2 separate regions of the Homo sapiens genome follow, and region 2 is linked to region 1. A link means that fine-mapping ties the variant in region 1 to the expression of a gene that starts in the linked region. Tissue or cell type: whole blood. Region 1 holds a variant in brackets; the other region holds the start of a gene. All regions are shown on one strand. Distances are from middle to middle.

Region 1 (5,268 bases):
CATCAATATTAATGAGACATTTAATAATTAACATACCTATTTTACATGTATAAAGTATGTACCTGATCAAAGGAATGCTCTACTTACTAATATGGTGGTAACACAGAGCCTGAGAACATCAACCTCAGTGATTTTCAACCTGGAATGTGTGTAACAGGCTGTTGCCCCTGTTACCCACCAAAATCCCACCAAAATCCCCTTCTCTCCCAGTGAGAATCATTGCATGCAATGATAACTATTACTGCTGGGAATGTGCTGCATATGTGGTCCCTATAGTGGCAGAACACTGATTTAAGTGATATCATTTATATTCAGCAAAGCTTATTGCTCCAACTAAGTTTTAAAACATTTTAGTAGCCTAAGAGTAAAAATTAGAGCAACAAAAATAATCAAAACCAAAAGTACAACACAAAACACAGATGGATTGAAGTTGAGGCTTGAAGGATGGGTAAGATATGGATCTACTGGACAGTTTTGACATTTTTCTATTGTTCTAAATTTTTGTTTCATTTGTCTCAACACTTGTACCATCTAAGGAATGAAAACTACTATCCTGACTTCTTAAGGAATATCAGAAACACTTACAAAGCACTCCGCAGCATCATCCATAAGGCCAAGTTGAAATCGCTGCTCATCTTTGAAACTTTCTGCAAGAGCATGCCTTATGTTATCTGAGGGAAGTGCTTTTTCTCGACTGTGTTGGAACTGTGCAAATATCGTCTGGGAATCGACAAGAAAATCAGTAAGTTTAATGCCAGCTTTAACGACATTTCAGTAATTTCATTACAACACAGAGAAACTCAAAACACTATACTTGGAAAATAATACAGAAGTCTTTTGCTCTAAAATTTCATACAAAAATTAATTATTTGTATCATCAAGTGTAGAAATGTTTGCACCAGCCTCTAAATCAAATGTTAGCAGACACAAGAATTAAACATGTAGGGTTCCCAGGTCCCACCCTCAGAGGACACTGCTGGTCCTGAGCATTTCAGACAAGAGATACCCAACCTGTATTTCGGAAAATAATACAGAAGTCTTTTGCTCTAAAATTTCATACAAAAATTAATTATTTGTATCATCAAGTGTAGAAATGTTTGCACCAGCCTCTAAATCAAATGTTAGCAGACACAAGAATTAAACATATAGGGTTCCCAGGTCCCACCCTCAGAGGACACTGCTGGTCCTGAGCATTTCAGACAAGAGATACCCAACCTGTATTTCTAATCTAAATTAAGAAACTGGAAACATCATTCAGTTTCTAATCTAAACCTAAGAAACTGGAAATATGAGATTATAGTTGTTAATATGATTTTCAATTTTCCTTATTAAACTTAAGCAAGAAAAAACATTTTAATAAATTCCAATTTTATGACAATCATCTTACATGGAAGAAAGAAAAGTTTTCAATGACAGCCCACCAAAGTAGTATTGGTCACATTCAGTCCCATGTTAGCTCAAAGGGTCATGTCATCTCAAAAAAAAAATATTTTTTTAAGATCAACATACAAAGAAAACATTTCACAAATCTGTTTCACTACAGCAAAAAAATACAATTTATAAATAAAATAAGAAATAAAAAAACAGATGTCATCTGATATTAGATACCCAGAACTATAATTATTTTAGCCATTATAGTAGCTAAAATTATGAATAGTAAAAGATGAAAAATAACTTTCAGATTTTATCTCTTATTTAGGCAATTAACTTCCAGGTAATGTTTAAGATTTTTAATCCTATGCGAGACTGTCACTCATTGATTCAACATATATTTTTTGCCTCCCTCGTATATGTTAGGCATTGTTCTACCCTAGAAAAATGGATGACAACCCTGCCCACATGGAGCCTATATTCTAGTTATAGTAATGAGAAGGCAAAGAAGTAATTATATAACATCAGAATGTGATAAGTACAGTAGAGAAAAATAGATACAAGAGAGAAAAATAAAGCAGTGTAACGGGGATAGGAATGCCAGGGATATTACAGATGGAAGCAGCTTACCTTTTACCTAGGGTAGTCGGGGAAGGCCTCACTAATGGAAAAGTAACATTTGAGGAGAGGCATAAAGGAAATAAGGGTGTTAGCCATGAGGACATCTGGAAGAAAAGCATTCCAGACAAAAGGAATAACAATGAGAAGACTTTGAGGTGGGGATCAGCTCTGAGAAATAGAGCCCAGTTTGGCTAAAATGCAATGTGTTTATGTGTGTTTTTGACAGGGGAGGAGAGGAAGGCAAGCACAGGAAAGAGGCAGGTGACTGTGCAGGGCTACAAGAGAGTTGGTCTAGGAAATTAATAATCCTAGGTTTTACAATTAGACAAAACATTCAAAATTTACTGTGGAATAAATAAAATGTGATACTGTAATGTGATCTAGGTTCATTCTTCAT[G/T]TCCTAACAATAACCCTATTTGGCCATGTTCTTAAAAAAAGAGAATATAAAATTTCTTCCTTTGGTGATTTACTCAAACAGCCTTTTCAGGAACATAATGAAATTAAGGCACATACATTAAAAAAAAAAAATTCTGTGTGTCTATGTGTATGTGTTCATTATGAATATTCAAGAATGTAAAAAAATGAAACATTTATCTCTAAAATGTATAACAAAATCTTAAGTTCTCTGGCAAAACATTTCAGTGACACGAATGAGTTGCTAATATATACTGGATGCTCTGTTTCTTTGTCTTCCTTCTATTTTCCTCAGCAGAGCAGCCACAGGGATCTAGTTCAAATATTATATCTGGTTAAAACAGACTGTATCACTCTTCCACTCAAAACAATGCCCCATCTCCCTAAATCACTCAGAGAAAAAGCCACGATCCTTACAGAGGCCTATAAGGCCCTACACAATCTAAACCCCTGTTATAGTTATTTATTGCTCTGTAAATAAACCACCCCCAAAATTTAGTTACATAAATCTGCAATTTGGGTGGGGACAGCATGTCTCTGCTCCACTCGAAGTCATTTTGGACAGTTTGAATGCTGGGACCTGGAATATCTGAGGGTCGCTCTTTCATGTCTGGCAGTTGATGCTGGCTGTGGGCTGGGAACTCAGCTCTAGCTGTGTCCAGAATGTCTCCACGTGGTCTTGCCGCATGGCCACCTGGCTTCCTCATCATGGTGGCTCACTTCCAAGAATGAGCAACTCAAGAGACAGAGGTGGGTGAGAGTTATATCACCTTTTCTAAACTAACCTAACCTCAGATATCTTGCTTGCAGCCTCAGTTCTGCCATAGTCTATTTGACAGAAATCAGTCATTAAGGCCAGCCTATATTCAAGGAATTAGATTTTGGATAAGGAAGCATGCAAAAGCATCCACAGACATGTTTTAAAGCCACCTCGGCTACCCTCACCTCAGAGCTCACCTTCTACCACTCTCTTCCTTGCTCATAAAGCTCCTGCCATCGCCACCCATATTTCCTTGGTGTTCCTTAAATATATCAGGTATACTCATACCTCAAGGCCTTTGCAGTTGCTGTTTCTTTGTCTACCTGGAAGGCTCTTCAAGGTGTCATTTCAAATATCAGTTTCTCAGTGAGGCTTTCCTGCCTATACAACACTCCCTATTTTCTTTCCCTGATGTATTTTTCCAATGTTACAACTATTACCATCTAACATACTCTATAATATTTTGCTTTCTTATTATTGTCTCCTCCTCTATAAGAATACAAGCTCTATGAGAAGAGGGATTTTTATCAGTTTTGTTCACTGCTGTATCCTCAGTAACTACACTGGTACCCAGAACTCAGTAGTAGCTCCAAAAACATTTGTTAAAATGAATAAGAATAATTGCAAAATAATGAAAAAGATAATGTTCCTAACAATTTTATACTACTTAGAATATTAATTTTTAACTGTCCTTATATAAAAGAGGAAAATGAAAACACAAACCTGAATAAGTCATACTGTTAAGAATTCATCTTCAAAACTGTTAATCACCTGACAGTGAACTTTAGTTACAACAAACTGACCCAATATATCAAACTTAAATTTTTGAAGGAACAATTGATAGTAGTTTTTCAGAGCTATTAAAAGGTTACCTTCAATGCACAAAATATACAGGCATCTCCCTGACAAACATGTCCAGTCAAAACCCGCAAGCTTCGTCGGAATATATCCAATTGCCATAAAACCTAAAAAACAGGGAGATGTTAAGGAAAAAGAAATAAACAAATTTTTCTTACTGTAACAAAAGACAGATTTAGATATTTTACAAATTGCAAAAGGCGAACAAGTAACTTCTTTTAATTGCCTGTACATAATCAGACACACATAACCACTGGAAATAACAGCAAGTATAAAATTGCTACATGCATGTTGTGCATATATAAAAGTTGGATTCAGAAGATACTCTTAATGGTGCACATGAAAAACTATGACAAGCATGGAGCAGGGAAAAACCAACTCCTCATTAAGGATTTGGTCTGAACAGGAAACAAGGAATACTAAATAGAGAAGTTGGCAGAGACATGAAAGAGGAAGTGATTATAATACTTGGAACAAACTGAAATTTTGAAAGGAAATATAATTAGACTTTAAAGCCAGAGTGTACTAAATTGGGGTCTGCACATTATGGCAAGAAAAAGGGGTGAGCAGAGGTGTATGTGGTCACTGTACATGGAACAAGAAAGGGGGCCTGTGTGGTAATGGGGGTACAGCATAGTAAGCAGCAGCCATTAATAAATTACCTAAGTATATACTTGATGCAATTATCCACTTATCTTCTGCTACTAAAAGACAAAGACAAAGCAAAGACAAAGACAAACCAAACCCAAAGACGGCAACTGTCAAAACAAATCAGTCCAATACTTAAAATCATTCTGAAAAACCTGAATTCTAGACAATGAGGATAAGAATAGTACTTGTGTCTCATAGAGTTCTTGTAAGGATTAAATAATATGTAATGTTTCTAGAGCAGGGTATGGTACTCAACTGGCATGCAATGAGTACCAGCTGCTATTTGTGGCTGTTACTACTATTACAACAAACAAATAAGATCTTCAAATTTCTCTTTTAGTCGTGTCCTCAGATAACGTAACTAAGAAAATCTATTCATGATCTCTCCTTTCTCCCAAATAAAAACAAAAAGTTAATAAAAACAAACTGGCTTTAATATTTCCTATATTTTCAACTACTCCACAACTAAAGGTCATTTCAAAATTTCTCTTTAAACGTTGCCTTTTATTAAAGCATAATGAATAGGATCCATTTTTCTGTCACAGATAACTCAGTGTTTTTGCAAAGCACTTGATGATGTTTAATAACTTTCT
Region 2 (5,000 bases), 54 kb before region 1:
ACCCAGAAGATGGAGAAATAACCTGTGGTACCAATCAACAGGGTTGTTGCTAGGACAGGTACTCAACTTGAAAAGGAGGAAAAGACAAAGTTAAGATGAGAAAGAATAATTTAAGATAAACACATATATTTCCAGATGAAAATTACAGTAACCAAATTCTCCACTGTTGGAGAGGTTATTCTATAAAATTAATTTAATTCCTAGGATGATCATGAGGATGCTTTATCACATGGATATACTGGCTTGAGAGCTGCATACGAAAAATTTGCATTATCCCTTAGGTTAAAGCAAAATTCATCATCATCTCCCTCCTGAAAACTTATTGCACTTGAAGTTCAGAAGATCTGTAACGTCTTCTTAAAAACACTTAGCTGTCTTTGGCCTGATGGTTATAGCATTTTCATACACCACCTTCTCCACCCCAGCTCAATCAGATTAATTGTGCTGACAGAATTATGGAAGTGTTGGATCATGGTTGCAGTGCAATGATTCAATCTGTAGTCCCTGGTGCATATTTTTCAGTTGAACATGTGAAGTAGAAAGTTCAAGGTGGTTGGACAAGTGCCGAGGTATTGCATGACTGACAGTGAACCTGGATTTCAGTACAGTACTTTTTAAAATTTAAATTGCTTTGATAATGGCAAATGCCAACTGAGCAAGGTGGCTCATGCCTGTAATCCCAGTACTTTGGGAAGTCGAGGCAGAAGGATCACTTGAGGCCAGTAGTTCAAAATCAGCCATAACACACTCTAAACTCATTTCTGTAATGTGGAATAATCAACAATCAGTGGGACTTTTACAAGGGTAAAGTCGGAAATAGAATCTTTCAACTGAATTTAGTTTAAATAACCCCTCCTTATTTGCACTAGTTGCTCTTCCAAGTCTGGCAGACGTTCCTGACTCTAGAACAGATCATACTGTCAACATCCCCTCATGATGAGCATGTGACTCTGGGCCAAAGACAAGTTTAAAACCATTTCAAGACCTGTTCAGTTTATGTCATGCTTCTTCAACACTAATAATCTCAATAATTTTTTATCAATCCTACTTCAATAACTAGGAGTAATTGATCCTACCTTGTCAGCGAGAAGAATGCTTCCATCTCTGGTAGAGGCAATTGTTTATTTGCCTTTCCTAATTTTTGTAAAGATTCAATGCCACTTAAGCCCAGGGTCTTTTTGTCTACTACCATCAGACAATCTGTATTACAGCACACAATCTAATTAATTCTCAGGTAATGGCCCTCTCATCCCAGAATCTACAAAGCATTTTTCTTGAAAGGTCGTATACTATCTTTGTCTCTAAAACCTGGCAATTGATTTGGAGGCAAATTGGAGCAAGGTTAGGAAGCTATGGAACAGCTTTAAGAGTGCTGGATTTGGAGTTAATTTTAGGCTTTATAATTTTTTTAGTAACCTTAGACAATTCACTCCTTTTGTGTCTCATTTCCTAATTCTATAAGATGGAGTACTGCCCCTTCAAAGAGGTTTTACGACGATTTAATGACTTTGTAAAAACACAACTACAGTCTTATCTCCATTTACTATGCACCAAGAGAACCACTTATATGTCTGGGTGCCCGTTATTTTCTGAACAATTCAGGAATCATAATGTGACAAGAAAGAGAATATTTGAAATTGGACCCACGAGGTAAAATCCAGGCAGTATAGGTCATTTTCTTCCTGCTAGCATTCTGTTCTTGCTGAGGCTCACACTCAAAGTCAAATAACCTTTGGGTTATTCTTCCCACCCCCATTTCCCCCCAGATGGAGTCTCGCTCTGTTGCCCAGGCTGGAGTGCAATAGTGGCACGATCTCAGCTCACTGCAACCTCCGCCTCCCGGGTTCAAGCGATTCTCCTGCCTCAGCCTCCCGAGTAACTGGGATTACAGGCGCCTGCCACCACGCCCGGCTAATTTTTGGATTTTTTTTTTTTTTTTTTTTTTTTTAGTAGAGACGGGATTTCAGCATGTTGGCCAGGCTGGTCTCGAACTCCTTACCTCAGGTGATCCGCCCGCCTCGGCCTCTCAAAGTGCTGGGATTACAGGGGGGCGCGGCCAGGTTATTCTTAAACCCACTCCCTTGAAGTACCTGCAAAATGCTCACGTGCTGCTCTCTGGCCCGTTTGGAAACTCAGTCCCGTGAGTAGGACGTCCACCTCATTGGTGGTGTTTAAATATTAAGTGTCAAATGCTAGAGACAGTACAAAACCCACCAGAGGGGGCCTTCCTAACACGTTGGCATAAGGATCCAAACGGAATACGGGGATAGGAGAGGTGACCTCGTGCAGTTTCAGGGAGGAGTCCATCACCTGACTGGACTGGGCCTTTCAGGGGGACGAGAACGTATTTCTTCCAACGAAACCTGAATAACCAGCTATCTGCCTGGGACGCCGCGAGGCAGAAGTAGGCGGGCCCATTGACTTAGTGTCAAGGCGGAGGCCGCGCTTCATGCCAGCGGTCACGGAGGCAGCGGAAAGCCGAGCCAGGCGCCTGCGCGCTGGGAAGAGTAGGTTCAGAGTGCATTCCGGAACCCGGGGCGCGGCGCACTGCGCAGGCGGCCGGACTCCGCTCAGTTTCCGGTGCGGCGAACACCAAAGTCCGGGAACTTAAGCATTTTCGGTTTCTAGGGTTGTTACGAAGCTGCAGGAGCGAGATGGAGGTGGACGCACCGGGTGTTGATGGTCGAGATGGTCTCCGGGAGCGGCGAGGCTTTAGCGAGGGAGGGAGGCAGAACTTCGATGTGAGGCCTCAGTCTGGGGCAAATGGGCTTCCCAAACACTCCTACTGGTTGGACCTCTGGCTTTTCATCCTTTTCGATGTGGTGGTGTTTCTCTTTGTGTATTTTTTGCCATGGTGAGTATCTCGAATGCAAAATTGGGGTGGTAAGGAGCTTAGAGATCATTTGCTCGCTTTTGGGCGGGGAGGGGACTGAATTCCAGAGAGTTTATATATGTCCAAGATCACACAGCTGGTGAGTGGCGCAGTCGGGTGGGTGGGGGAGAAGGACTAGGAGTAAAATGTCCTTCTTTAGCACGTCCGTGGGAGTCTCCAAAGAAGTGTGGAGAAAACTTGGCGTCATATTTTCTCATGATTTGGAATGAAACCAGCTAGGCTTGAGTTCCTGCAGCACCATGAAGCGACCGGAGAAGTTATTTCGCCTTTTGGAGCTTTATTTTTTCATCTGCCATTTGGGACCATTAGTAACCCAGGTCATAGGGGTGTAGTGAAGATTGAGATCGTAGTGATTTGCATGTTGCCTGGCAGTAGTAAGTGCTCAACGAAAGCTATTTTTACTATACAGCTGTTTAACCATGAGCAGACCACGCAGCTGTCTCAAACTAAACATGTCCAAAACTGAACTCTTAACAGCTTCTTACCCAAATTTACTTGCCTTGCAGCGTTACCATTTCAGTAAACGCCAACTTTATCCACCGTTACCTCCCAGAAACCTGAGACACTTTGCCCTTTTCTTACACACATCCACATATCCTAAAACACCAAGTTACAAAATTCTGTAGAGTTTACTTGTAAAACCCATGCTCTCCATTTTCATCGCCACTCGCTCTGAAAAGACAATTCTGGCAGAGGGTAAAGGAAGGGAACTTAAGAGAATAGGGCAGGAGGAAGCAGACACCAAATGGAGATGGTGTTAAGAGACAAGCTAAGGAGAAGCAGTGAGATGAAACAGGGCTCCTATGGGAGAAGAGCAGTGTAGCCCATCTAGACAGCTCTCCTGGACTTTGGAGTTGATTGTTCACTCACTGTTAACTCCTTAGTCACCATGCCTATGAGTTACTTCTGAAATTCTCACTTCTTGATAGGCAGTCACTTCTTCTACACCCCCAACCCCCATCCTATATTTTCACCAAGATTTGGGTGTCTTAAGCCTCACTGTCTCATTTCTTGGATGGTGTAGTAAGTTAGAGAAGACAGAGAGGGCCAGGCACAGTGGCTCACGCCTGTAGTCCCAGCTACTTGGGAAGCTGAAATAGGAGGATTGCTTGAGCTGGGGAGGTCGAGGCTTCAGTGAGCTGTGAACGTGCCACTATACTCCAGTCTGGGAGACAAAGCAAACCCTGTCTCAAAAAAAGGGGTGGCAGGGGAGCGAGAGGGATTAATGGGAGGATGGCAAAAGGGATAGGGATTTCTATAAAATTCTCTGTCAAGCCATTTGTAAAGGGAGAGTTTTACTCTCCCTCCCTGTTTTGGTAGAGACTGATAATCTCAAATACAGTGGGTTTTGTGTGTGTGTGTGTTTTTATGACCTGAACTTTCAGCTCTGGATAGAAAATAGAGGCCTTACAAGAAATGTTCTAGGCTTTTCTTTTTATCAATATGTAAATAGGCATAAAGTGTTAAAAACTGGGAAGATAAAGCACATATTGCTGACAAATACTTGCTTTTTACAGACTTGTTCGCTGATATCTAAATTAAGAAGTTGGTTCTTGAGTGAATTCTGAAAATGGCTACAAACTTCTTGAATAAAGAAGACAGGACTCTCAATAGAAGAATTTCACATCTCCAAGGGACCCTTCCTTTCATTTTACACTTTGTTACTAATTTGCAGAACTCTATTAATTGGGTAGGATTTCACCCATTCCTAGCTAAGTTCTTAAAATTAAACCCTTTGGTTCGTGTTTAAAAACTTTCAAACATCTGATGGCTTTACAGGGGCTGAATATAAAAGCATTTGTACTTAAAGGTCTTGTGTATTCATTAAGAAATATAGTAATGTCTTTTAATGTTTTAAGAGTTGATCAGGGTTTACTATGATGCAAGTAATAGGATGATTAATAAGGGAAGGTTTTTATGAATTCAAAAGTCAATTATTCAAAAGCAGGGAAAGATTTTGAGAGAGGGAACAAAGTATTCTTAGATTGCGTAGAAGCTGCTAGGTTCCAGTTTTAATTTTTAGGTTTAGTTGGACTCTGTTATGAAAAGATAGGTTATGGGTGGGCGACAGGTTGATACAGTCTTAGAAAAAGCAGGTAATATCAAA

The links. PIP is the estimated chance that this variant, and not a neighbour inherited with it, causes the effect. A credible set is the group of variants that fine-mapping cannot tell apart.
Region 2: it holds the start of ARLN, and the variant in region 1 is the best candidate, but not a certain one, in a credible set for the expression of ARLN in whole blood (INTERVAL, PIP 0.72).

Annotation. Positions count from the first base shown.
Region 1 is chr4:119,244,200-119,249,467 of GRCh38, reverse strand. It overlaps USP53 (ubiquitin specific peptidase 53), which reads right to left. Exons shown (of 19, transcript NM_001371395.1): 6 at 4,039-4,131; 7 at 586-720. Among named protein-coding and RNA genes, the nearest start is that of USP53, 34 kb to the right of the region's middle. The variant G/T (reference allele first, on the strand shown) is at 2,390.
Region 2 is chr4:119,298,190-119,303,189 of GRCh38, reverse strand. ARLN (allregulin) reads left to right here and starts at 2,545. Exons shown (of 2, transcript NM_001001701.4): 1 at 2,545-2,854; 2 at 4,411-5,000. The coding sequence starts at 2,655. The coding sequence ends at 4,411. RefSeq lists enhancers at 2,572-2,801, 2,902-2,951.